Homo sapiens: one gene and its partners. The protein of the gene in region 2 interacts with the protein of the main gene of each other region in a pairwise test. Each region holds a gene or a part of one and is shown on either strand. Other genes may lie near its edges.

The links.
Region 1: the proteins of CLCN7 (region 2) and TLCD4 interact in binary tests that used the Homo sapiens proteins (3 or more experiments, as listed by UniProt).
Region 3: the proteins of CLCN7 (region 2) and KCNN3 interact in binary tests that used the Homo sapiens proteins (3 or more experiments, as listed by UniProt).

What each region holds. Positions count from the first base shown.
Region 1 is NC_000001.11:95,148,233-95,151,985, forward strand, and holds part of TLCD4 (TLC domain-containing protein 4), read left to right. Parts: intron 1-469; coding exon 470-559; intron 560-1,975; coding exon 1,976-2,034; intron 2,035-3,092; coding exon 3,093-3,187; intron 3,188-3,753. Other genes in the region: TLCD4-RWDD3 (TMEM56-RWDD3 protein), read left to right, coding at 470-559, 1,976-2,034, 3,093-3,187.
Region 2 is NC_000016.10:1,468,424-1,472,176, reverse strand, and holds part of CLCN7 (H(+)/Cl(-) exchange transporter 7), read left to right. Parts: intron 1-413; exon of another isoform or gene 414-553; intron 554-3,753. UniProt on the Homo sapiens protein: Slowly voltage-gated channel mediating the exchange of chloride ions against protons. Functions as antiporter and contributes to the acidification of the lysosome lumen and may be involved in maintaining lysosomal pH.
Region 3 is NC_000001.11:154,702,681-154,706,433, reverse strand, and holds part of KCNN3 (small conductance calcium-activated potassium channel protein 3), read left to right. Parts: 3' UTR 1-3,753. UniProt on the Homo sapiens protein: Small conductance calcium-activated potassium channel that mediates the voltage-independent transmembrane transfer of potassium across the cell membrane through a constitutive interaction with calmodulin which binds the intracellular calcium allowing its opening.

The DNA of each region.
Region 1 (3,753 bases), on a different chromosome or scaffold from region 2:
CGAATTGTTTTAAGGATATGGAGTTTGTTAAAGCCAGTAGATCTGGAAGTCATTCCCAGCTGATTGGAGCAGGAAACTTATCCTGCATTGATGCTGTTGGGGCTGGAGCTTGGAGCCAAGGGTAGTGGCCTTGCCAGTTGCCATCTGGCTGCACAAAAGTCTGTCAGCTGCATCATCATGTATGCATTTATCTGTCTTAGAACTTTTAACCAATAAGTGATTCACCAGTTCTCTAGCAGGAAATTGTAGGCCTTGGTATCTTCCTCCTTCTTTATTCCAAAGTAAAGCTGTGGCCTTTGGATTTCTAAATGGCAAGAAATGGCAATTTTGCATTATACTCTCCGTTATACTTCACACCTGTATATAAATGCTTCCAGGTATAACTTGTTCAGAATGTTCTGTGTCTTGTCAGGATTAAATTTTATTGCAAAGAATCTAAAATCTTTGTGTGTATTTTGTTTAATTTCAGGGTAGTATCCACATGCCATTCTTTGGTGGTTGGTATTTTTGGCCTGTACATTTTCTTATTCGATGAGGCTACTAAAGCTGATCCACTTTGGTAAGCTGTTTCTTTTTCTAAGATTGCCAATTTCATTTATGTTTTGATATTAATTATTTATAAGAACATCACTTACTTTAAAACAGAAAACATATTGATCGTATATGCCTTATTAAAATGCTTGTGCTCAGACATTCTAGCAAAGTGCATTTAAATGATTTATTTTAGATTTGAACACAAATGAAGGCCATTTTGCCTTAGTGTAGCAATTGTTATCCAAAACAAGGAGAATATGATGATAATTTAAACATTTTTACTGTGTTAATGAGTAAAGCCAAGTTATTGTAGTCACAGTTCTGAAGAAAAATAAATCATTATTGAGATAGGGTAGTCAACTTGGATAATATCTACTTAAGACTTTTTTGTCTCCAATTTATGTTTGACTCATTTGATATCAAAGAGATGAAATGAGAGTTACAGATGGCCATGTGATAGGAATTTAGTACCACAGGATTTGAAGCACTAATGCACTAATAATAACTGTGTTCAGTAGTAATAGGATAACATGTAAGATGGTCCTTTTAGAAAAATTTAAATGTCATTCCAATGGCAGAAATTTTGCAAACTGTTTCCTGGTGTTATATGAGAAGGCTTAGTTCAGCTTAGTTTGAGAGAGCAGGCATGTTTGAAGAAGCACTGCACTGAGATGAGGTAGTTGTGGGCTCCGGGGGATGTAGGGCAATTTAGCCTTTTCTTTTGACCACCACCATTTGACTGCAAGGACGTTTTTCTATTCATAAATATAAAATTATTCCCAGAAGAATAATATCAGTATTGATACATTTTCATTGGGATGCTGTTTTTCAAAGAGAATTAATTTATTGAATTTAATTCCATGACTAGGTTTTTAAATAGTCTACCTACAAAATTTCTAGCTTTTTAAAAATTTTCGTTTTCATTTTACTAACGTGACCATCAGCAAAATAAAACCAGTTCTTTTGGGAAGTAAATTTCATAACAAAGATTTGATTCATTGTTCAAGTTTTGCCTTATCGAACTTTAACATAATTTTTGATTTGAATTTTATGTCATGATTTACTCCAGGTCAAATTTTCCTGGTTATATTTACAGATCAAAATTTGTAAAGAAGGCACAACTTGTGCTAAATCTTTCTATTAAATATTTGTAGTCCAGCTATTTTAGTTAGTGTTACTTTCACTAGTAGTTCACTTTGTAACTATCTTACTATGTAAGATAACAGCAGTAGTTACCTTACTGCTAACACCAGTACCACATGATGCGTCACAGTTTGGCTAAACTGTCATTGTGTGTTTTGCAATTTTATTTGAAGATGACAGCTTACCATTTGAGAATCTATAGAAAGCAATTTTATTATATTTAAATCTCTATAGAAAAAAGAAGTAGCGGTCATCTACAATCTATATACTTTAAAAAGGAACCTTTTTTTTTTTTCAGGGGTGGTCCATCACTTGCAAACGTGAATATTGCTATTGCCTCAGGCTACCTCATTTCTGGTATGTGAGATGTTGTTTTATTGTCTAATTCCTTGTAAACTACTCACGGAATTATACAAAGAATATATAGTCTATGCTTTTGGTTTATTTGAGAGATAGCATTTAGGAAGCATACAGAGGAAAAAAATACCTCCCATGATGGTAGAACATGAAATGTCTTTTCATGAAATGGTTTTCTGTTTCTCACTGAAGATCAGAGTTACAGAGTGATGCCTCAAACAACTGAGGCCTGGACATTTTTTATCAGCAAGGATATGGTCCCTCTTTGTCCTAATGAGGCTCTTAAGTGTAATGACTGTGAAACTAACGAAATTTAACTTTTAGGGTCCCTCACTTGCAAGAGTTCTTGAAATGTGTTCCAGTAGTCATGGTTTTGTGTTGTTTTTGTAAAATTTGCAGAAGTAAGCTTTTTTCTTTGTTTTTCTTTTTAATAGTTATAGTTTTTGGTGGCGTCACTATTTTGAATTAGTATTTAATTGCATTCTTTTTTATTTTTAAAATATTTTTTGTACGATTTGTTTTATAAATGAGTTGGTCATTTTGTACCTTCCCTATGACCATCTTATCTCTGTTTGAATTATTGTAGTGACAAAAATCAGTCACTTAAGCTTATTTAAAATTATTTCTATTCAATAATATTTTTTGTTTATTTTAACTCTGGAAACAAGTTATTCATTTATGCTTTCAACAAATATTATATTACATATGATTAGGTTGGTACAAAAGTAATTGCAGTTTTTGTGATTAAAAATAATGGCAAAAATCACAGTTACTTTTGCACCAACCTACATGCCAGGCCTTGTGCTAGATTCTGAGGGTTTAAAGATGCTCACAACCTGGCCCTTGTCTTAGAGGAGCCACAGGAGTGTGGATGAGACAGGCATATAGGAGCAGAGATTTTATGGTAAAGTAGATAATCAGACTAACTGAGGGATGAACAAAGTGCTGTGGGCTCAGAGTGGACAGTGATGAGTTGGCAGGAGAAAGAGTTCAATACATTTGAAAAACAGTGCAACTTTCTTCTTATGTAATACCTTACTCACTTTTCTTTCTTACAGATTTGTCCATTATAATTTTGTATTGGAAAGTGATTGGTGACAAATTTTTTATAATGCATCATTGTGCGTCCCTGTATGCATACTACCTTGTACTGGTGAGTTCCAGGATTTTCTGTAGCCTAACTAGCAGACAAGATTGGGAATAGTGATGTAAAGGTGAACATAAATCTAAACATACAATTCTTAGTTTTTAAAGACCATCTCCAGATGCATTCAGGGATTGCTTTTGTGGTATGCTATCTTCTGTATTAACTAAAATAATACCTTTATGTGTGTCTGTGTTGGTGTTGGTGTGTCTGTTTGTATTCATAGATTTTGAGACAGACAAATGACCCTAATTCTTTGAATTTCCATTTAAAACCTTCAGGATTGTTGTAGCTATAGATATTTGTCTGTATTTCTAGATGCATTTATGATTTAACAGCAAAGAGTATGAGCCAGCGAAAATATTTCTTTTCTGTTTAATTCCATGTGCAATTACATATACATAATTACATTTAAGTAGGTTGGAGCAGTGGAGAAATCTTGCTCAGACTTTTTCAGAATTCCAAGACCAAGGTTAATAGAGGATTCTTCCAACAGATCTCAGGCAGTAAAGCATATTAAATTATATATCTAAAATTTCTACATATACATATGTAAACTAGCAACTTTATATTCC
Region 2 (3,753 bases):
CTCTGCTTACAAGCAATTTAAAAAATAGTTTATCGTGCACTTGCTCTGTGGCTGCCTGGGACGCAGGCGCATAAAGCTGCTTCCTTCCTGCTGGAGACAGGCCCAGTGCCCTGTGCGGATGGTCTGCAGGGCCCCTGGGGCAGGAGCAGTCACAAGGCTTGGGCTTGAAGAGCACAAGATCTTCAGGCAGGCGGACGGGGGGAAAGGACAGAGGGAGTGTGTGTTTGGGATGCGCTGTGGAGCCTGGAGGTCAGCCCTGCTGCGCACATGAACAGGCTTTGAATTTGGCTCATCTCTAGGGGAGCCCATGGGAAGCTAGGACCCCATTCCTGAAGGGCCCCAGCCTTCCCCTGCAGACAGACTGGAGAGGCGGAGTCTAGAGGCCAAGACACCACCTCTTAGGCCAGGCGTTTGTGCTCTGAGCATCGGACTCGCCGATGGCCTCCTGCAAGGCCTGTAGCCTCCCTGTTGCCCAGTTTTCCCGTCTGCGAAAAAGTTAACGCATGCATAGCGCTGAGCACGGTGCCTGTCACAAACTACGCTCTGAAGAAACGTGAGTCGTGCCCGGTCGTGTTAAAACCAGCAACACAAGAGGGATTCGTGTTCGTTGTGACTTTCCTGTCCAACTTCCTGAGTAGCTACTGGATTTCTTGGTGCTGCTTTTCTGGGGGAGGGTCTGCTCTGACTGGTGGGCACAGCTCACAGTTAGGCTCAGGCGCACCCCAGTGTGGCCACAGACGGGGTACTGTAAGCTGCCCTTGGGTTCAAGGCCTCCAGAGCTGTTTTGAGCTAAAATATCAACCCAGGCCATCCCCTGCTGACGGGACTGTTCCAGTGAACATGAGAACTGGTCCTAGCTGCCTCCAGGCTCTTTAGGGTTTGTTGCAGGATTTTCAGGTTGGCTGGTGGTGTCGTTGCCACCTCAGCGTGGGCACAGCTGGCCAAACACTATGAGGTGGCTGCCCTGGGCAGGGCAGACTGTGGAGTGGCTTGTTGGAGGCTGGGTGCCCGCTGAAAGCCCAGGCCCTTCAGAGCTGCCTGTGGGTTGCTGTTCCTGTTCTCAGGCCGGTCTTGCTTTGTGTGGTGTAGTGGTGAATTGACCAAGCCAGTCACTGCTCATCTGGTGGTGTTGGGACAGGGCGAGGGTGAGGTCAGCCAGCCCTGGCCGTGTGTGGGCGGCAGGAAGCAGAACTCCTTGAGAACTGAGAGGGAAAGCGGCTGGAGCCAGAAACACTTGGGTCTCAGGGGGCAGTGAGGGGAGGTGGGTATTTGCAGGACATCCCTGGGAACTCATGTTGGGACACTCCACATAAGACCTTGGCAGGGCAGGGGTCTGGGTTAGTGTGGGACTGTGTCCTGCCTGGGCACCCGGAGCCACAGACCGCAGCCTGAGAAAGAACTGTGGGCGCAGCAAGGCTGCGGGGGAGGGTCTGGGGTCGTCGCCAGTGGCCCCTTGAGCTCTGCTGTACTTGAGGAAGTGCCCCTTGGTTCTTTTCTGGCCTCCAGGAAGTCCTCTGCCAGCCTGGGAGGGTTCCCCTGCTGTCCCCTGCCCTTCCCTGCCCTCCAGCATTGCTGTTCAGTGTCTGTCTTGCTTTAGGTCTCTGCCTTAACGCCATGGGGACACTGCATGGACAGCAAAGGCCTCTCCTTGGTCTCTGTGGCCTTTGTGTGTCACCTTGTTTCCTTTGACTGTAACCCCCATCCCCCCGCGGGGCAGCTGCTGTATCCTCTGTGCCTAGCGTCTAGCCTGGTCCTGGCAGAGGCCTGCTGAATGTTAGGACGCAACACAGGCCGAGCAGAACAGCAAATGGTCTTTAATCCTGCTTTAAGTTTTAAAAAAAACTGTGGTAAAGAACACATACCATAAATTTACCATTTTGAGCCAGGCATGGTGGTGCACGCCTCTCATACCAGCTACTTGAGAGGCCAAGGCGGAAGGATTATTTGAGCCCAGGACTTAGAGACCAGCCTGGGCAACATAGCAAGACCTTGTTTCTAAAAAACATTTTGTTTAATGACCGTTTAATCATCCGTGAGTGCAGTCAGTAGGGTTGAGCACGCTCTTAGTGTTACACAACCCATTCCTTGCCAAACTGAAACTGCACCCATTCAACGCTCTCCCTTCCTCCTGCTGCCCAGCCCCCTCGTTGCCATCTGCCTCAGGGGACCTGACGGCTCCAGGGCCCTCTTGCGAGTGGACCTGCGGGAGCTGTCTTTTTCTGACTGGCTTATTTCACGGGGCACAGTGTCCTCCGGCCCGTCGTGCTGCAGCACGGGTCGGTGGTCATTCCTCTTTATGGCTGAATTATTCCATTGCGGGGAGAGGCTGCATTTCCTTGACTCACTCATCCATCGGCACAGCAGGTGCTTCCGCATTTTGGTCATTGTGAACGGTGCTGCTGTGAACATGGCGTGCAAGTGGGACTTTCAGACGCTGCTTTTTTATGTTTGTTTTTGGTTTTTGGTTTTTTGTTTATTTTTGTTTTTGTTTTTGACGGAGTCTCCCTCTGTCGCCCAGGCTGAAGGGCAGTGGTGTGATCTCAGCTTACCACGACCTCTGCCTATTGGGTTCAAGTGATTCTCCTGCCTCAGCCTCCTGAGTAGCTGGGATTACAGGCGCCCACCACCATGCCCGGCTAATTTTTGTATTTTTAGGAGAGTTGGGGTTTCGCCACATTGGTCAGGCTGGTCTTGAACTCCTGACCTCAAGTGATCAGCCCGCCTCAGCCTCCCAAAGTGCTGGGATGACAGACGTGAGCCACCTCCCCTGACCCTGAGTTTTTTTATGTATTCTGAATATTAATCCCTTATCAGATATTAATTCCTTATCACATTTGCAAATATTTTCTCGTTTCATAGGTTACCTTTTGCTCTGTTGTTTTCTTTGATGTGTAGAAGTTTTAAAGTTTGATGTAGTTCCCCTCTATACATTATTTTGACTTTTATTTTGTTTTATTTTATTTATTTATTTGAGACAGGGTCTTGCTCTGTTGCCCAGGCTGGAATACAGTGGCAGGATCTCGGCTCACTGCAACCTCCACCTCCCGGGTTCAAGCAGTTCTCCTGCCTTAGCCTCCCGAGTAGCTGGGATTACAGGTGTGCACCACCATGCCCGGCTAATTTTTTTTTTTTTTTTTCGTTTTTTTTAAGTAGAGACGGGGTTGCTTCATGTTGGCCAGGCTGGTCTCGAACTCCTGACCTCGGGTGATCTGCCCGCCTTGGCCTCCGAAAGCGCTGGGATTACAGGCGTGAGCCACTGTGCCCAGCCCTTTTTTGACTTTTAAATCACTCTGGATTCACAGGAAGCAGCAAAGGTAGCACAGGGGGCTTGTGTACCCTTCACCGAGTTTCCCCCCAATGTTTACCTTTCCGTAACAGCGCAGCCCCAAAACCAAGAGAGTGTCGGTGCAATGCGTGTAGATCCGCGTAAGCACCAGGAAGGGGGTGCAGGCTATTTTCAGACCCATCTTTCTAGTCCCACCCACTCCCAACCCTGATGACCTCGCCTCCCGTCCGGCCCGAGTCTCGCCTCTCGGGAGTGTTGGCTCACGTGTTCCTGAGCCTGTCTGTTTTTAGTTAGTGTCCGGCGCTTGGGACCGTGTAGGTTGCCGTGTGTGGCAGGAGTTTGAGGAACAGCATCTAGTGTTTAATTTATAAGAGCTTGCATTTAAAAAAGAAAGTAACCGCACGGAATGCATTGCTGAACTTGAAGTAAACGTCGTGTTCTTCCATTACGAAAGCCACCTTCTCAAA
Region 3 (3,753 bases), on a different chromosome or scaffold from region 2:
TGAGGTCTTTGGTTTCTGCCTGTGGGAAATTGAATGGCACTGTATGGACTATTTCATCTGTTGATGGTAAAACAAAAGGGTGATTTTTTTGCTTGTGGTTGTCATCTTGGGTTTACCTTTGTAAGAAGACATCATCACCATTCTGAAGGCAGTGGCTTGGCATGGAGATTTTTATTCTGTAGCACTGGGCCTGTTCTTCTAAGGACAGCACAAGGTAGACAATTGTAGAGCCAAGGCCACTTTTTCAGGAAGATCTAGTCTCTTGCTAACCCTCTTCTTTCTCTCTTGCTATTGCTGCTGCTCTTTTGATGGTTTATAGTCTTAATGGCCTGCCTTGATAATTCCTTTGAACACTTTCATTAGTTGTTTTGCATACCAGAGATGCCGCACCTGCTGTTGGCTTATTTTTTTACTTGTTCTATTAACTGTTGATTATCTGAATGTTTCCCCTCCTCCTTGTTTCATGTCCCAAGAATGGTGCTCCTGTTTTCAGTGACAGTTCAGCTGAACATATAAGCAGATGTGTAAACAGATGAAGTAACCATGCAGTTTCCTTGTGGCATTAGTTCCATTTCACAAAGTGAAGACCACTGGTGGGCTGATCTGAGTGTGCCAATCCTGATCATTTAAACCTACAGCCTTCAACTGGTGATTCCTACCCACCGTTTTCATTCTGCTATAACCCTGTGATATGTGTGCGTGTGGGTGTGAGTGTGGGTGTGTGCACATATAGAGATTTAGTCTTAATTTCAACCAAATGACATGCAAGATTCCACTGCCACTCTTCCTGGCCAAAAGTGTGCACAGACTGTGATTTATTCATTGTGGTCTGTGACTTTAACCCATCATTGATGCTCTCACTTAGGTAAACCCTAAAGACCAAACTAGCAACACTAGTCAAGGGAGTGACTGGAGTTATTTCTGGTAGCAGTAGCCACTGGCATCCTAGAAACACATGGACATTTGTAGCATGAATTGACCTATTGGTAGTGCAATAGCTATACATGATTTTTATTCTTGGCAAAAGAAAATGCTTCAAAAAAAAAGTGATCAAACCTGCACATTGATCCTGTAATAGCAAATGGAAGGCTATTTCTCTGTACTAGCATTTCAGCTTTATGTGGGAAAGTTACCCGTTCTCCTGCAAGTACAATCAACCCTTGATGACTTAAGTATTAATTATTCTGGGTGTAGCTCACCCAAGTTTTCTTCCTACATCTTTTGGCTAATTCCACCACACCTCAGCATCACAGTCAGATGGGAAAAGGGGCAGGTGGATTCTCATGTCATGCCTTCTTGTACCTTATTTTCAAGTTTTGTGGTGGAGGAGGTTTAATTATCTGCTCAAGAATCTGGTATATATAGCCAGGTGCGGTGGCTCATGCCTGTAATCCCAGGACTTTGGGCAAGGCGAGAGGATCACCTGAGGTCAGGAGTTCAAGACCAGCCTGGCCAACATGGCAAAACCCCATCTCTACTAAAAATACAAAAATTAGCTGGGTTTGGTGGTGGACACCTGTAGTCCCAGCTACTTGGGAGGCTGCGGCAGGAGAATCACTTGAACCCCGGAAGTGGAGGTTGCAGTGAGCCAAGATCGTGCCATTGCACTCCAGCTTGGGTGACCGAGCAAGACTCCGTCTCAAAAAAAAAAAAAAAATCGGCTATATGTAAAAACTATTAATTATGTAACCTCACTCCAATACTGTACTGATCAAGATCTGCCCACTCCTAGAGGACTGACCCAATGGCAGATCCCCTACTATAATCTTTCTGACAACTCAGTGACAGGTAAAATCACTCTAATATTCCTAAAATATCTAGACACTTGAATTAGAAATACAGAACCACCCCCACCCCTGCCATTGCTTAAGCCATATTAAAGCTTCATGTACTGTAAAGTCAGGGATGTACTGTGATACTTTAAGACCACTAATCTCAGTGGAATTTCAGGACATAGCATTAGTTGGTAAATTACACCAGACTAGGGGCTCACTCCTCCTTAGATTGAAGTCCAAATAAAAGTCTTCACCTTTGGATCAAAGGCCACATATATATGATCATCATCAATAAATTGTCATAAAGTGTCTATGAACTGCTCTTGCCATCTTCCTAATACGTAACTTCATGACATCATGTCTCTAGAAGTGCTTAATACAATCCAAAAGAACAAGGGGGGAAGGCCCCAAGTCACCACTGACCGACCTCAGCAGGGGCCAGTGGTAGAACAACAATCTTGTGAATTAGGAGACATAGAAAATGTACGCAAAAGTAAATTCCAAGCGCTGAGCATGTACAAGCTATTTTTATTATTAAAAGCCAAGAAGGAAGAGCATTGAAGAAGTAATGATTTTAATATAGTGGGGGATTTCCCCCTTAAATTTTTATAATTTCCTTGTGAATAAACAATCATGGAAAAGAAGAAACCTAGTCATACAAAATCAGAATAAATAAAAATCTTAAGACTGGATCCACATCTTTGGCCAATTCATATAAGCACCTAATACATCAATTTCTCTGTACTTAAAATGAAGAGAATAATTAATATTCTTAAGTACAATGTTTTCAATAGAGAACAAATGAAATCACCTTTGTCATCAACAGCAGCCCAGACTGACTGTATCTAGATCACACCTTGATGTTACGTTTGAATGCAGTCAGTAGTTACCAAAAAGTAATTAGTGCACATTAAATAGTGGTAAAATCAGCAGGGAGAAATATGGGATTAGCACGTAGTTCCAGAACCTTCCTCCTCCTCCAGAGTGCAACTCAACAAACAGTACACTCCAAATTAAGAATCAATGTTTCATCCCAGGACAAACGGTGTTGCTCCCATCACAGTACCACAACTGAGATACTGTGAAGTCATTGCACTACCAGTAGGTTACTACTCTTTTGAAGTTACTGTTTTTAAATCCTAAAATATGTCCCCAGTTTTCTACATTCATTCTTCTTCCCCTAAGAGTTGCTAGAAGCAGATGAAGGATCCCTATTGACTCTGCAGGGTTTGATTTCAGTACCTTAGACAGCTATCTGGTGACTTCCCAGTAGGCACGAACAACCCCTTCTCTCCCCTTGCAGTCGGTGGGCTTGATGACGCCCCAGACAGTATCCTTTCCTTCTCTACTGCCGCCAAAATAAACATTAGGGAAATGGGATCATTAACACCACTGAGAAAGGAGTTTACAGGGATCGCAATAGTAACTGTCTGCTTGTGGTAGTAGAAAGCTTGTGCCAGGCTGCATGAATAGAAATTAATGTTAAACTCCTGTTAGACGAGTAATATGTAGATTTTTATTGAAACAGACCACAGCTTATTAAAAAGTACTCAGTGCAATGGTATATACATATATACAGATAGAAAAAAATATAACTGTGATCTTTTTGTCTTACGCCATTACTGGAAACACCCAAACGTGAACTGGAGTTCCCTCTGAACAAAACCATTGTCAAATCTTCAACATATGACCTCCAAATCTAGGTGCCAAGTGCCCTGTGACAGTTGTTTACACACCTGAAAAATGTATCCTGGAAGCTGTAATCTTGGGCCTGGGCTATGTGTTGAAACAAGCAAAAGAGACACATCGTGACCAACCAAGCTGGTGGAGGAAAAGCACAAAATTCAACTCCAACCTGCAGTTAGGATCCCAAAGAGATGTTGACATTTATAGCCAAAAAGAAAAAGTACATATATATATATATATATATATATATATATATATATATATATATATATCTGAATCAGATCGAAGCAGC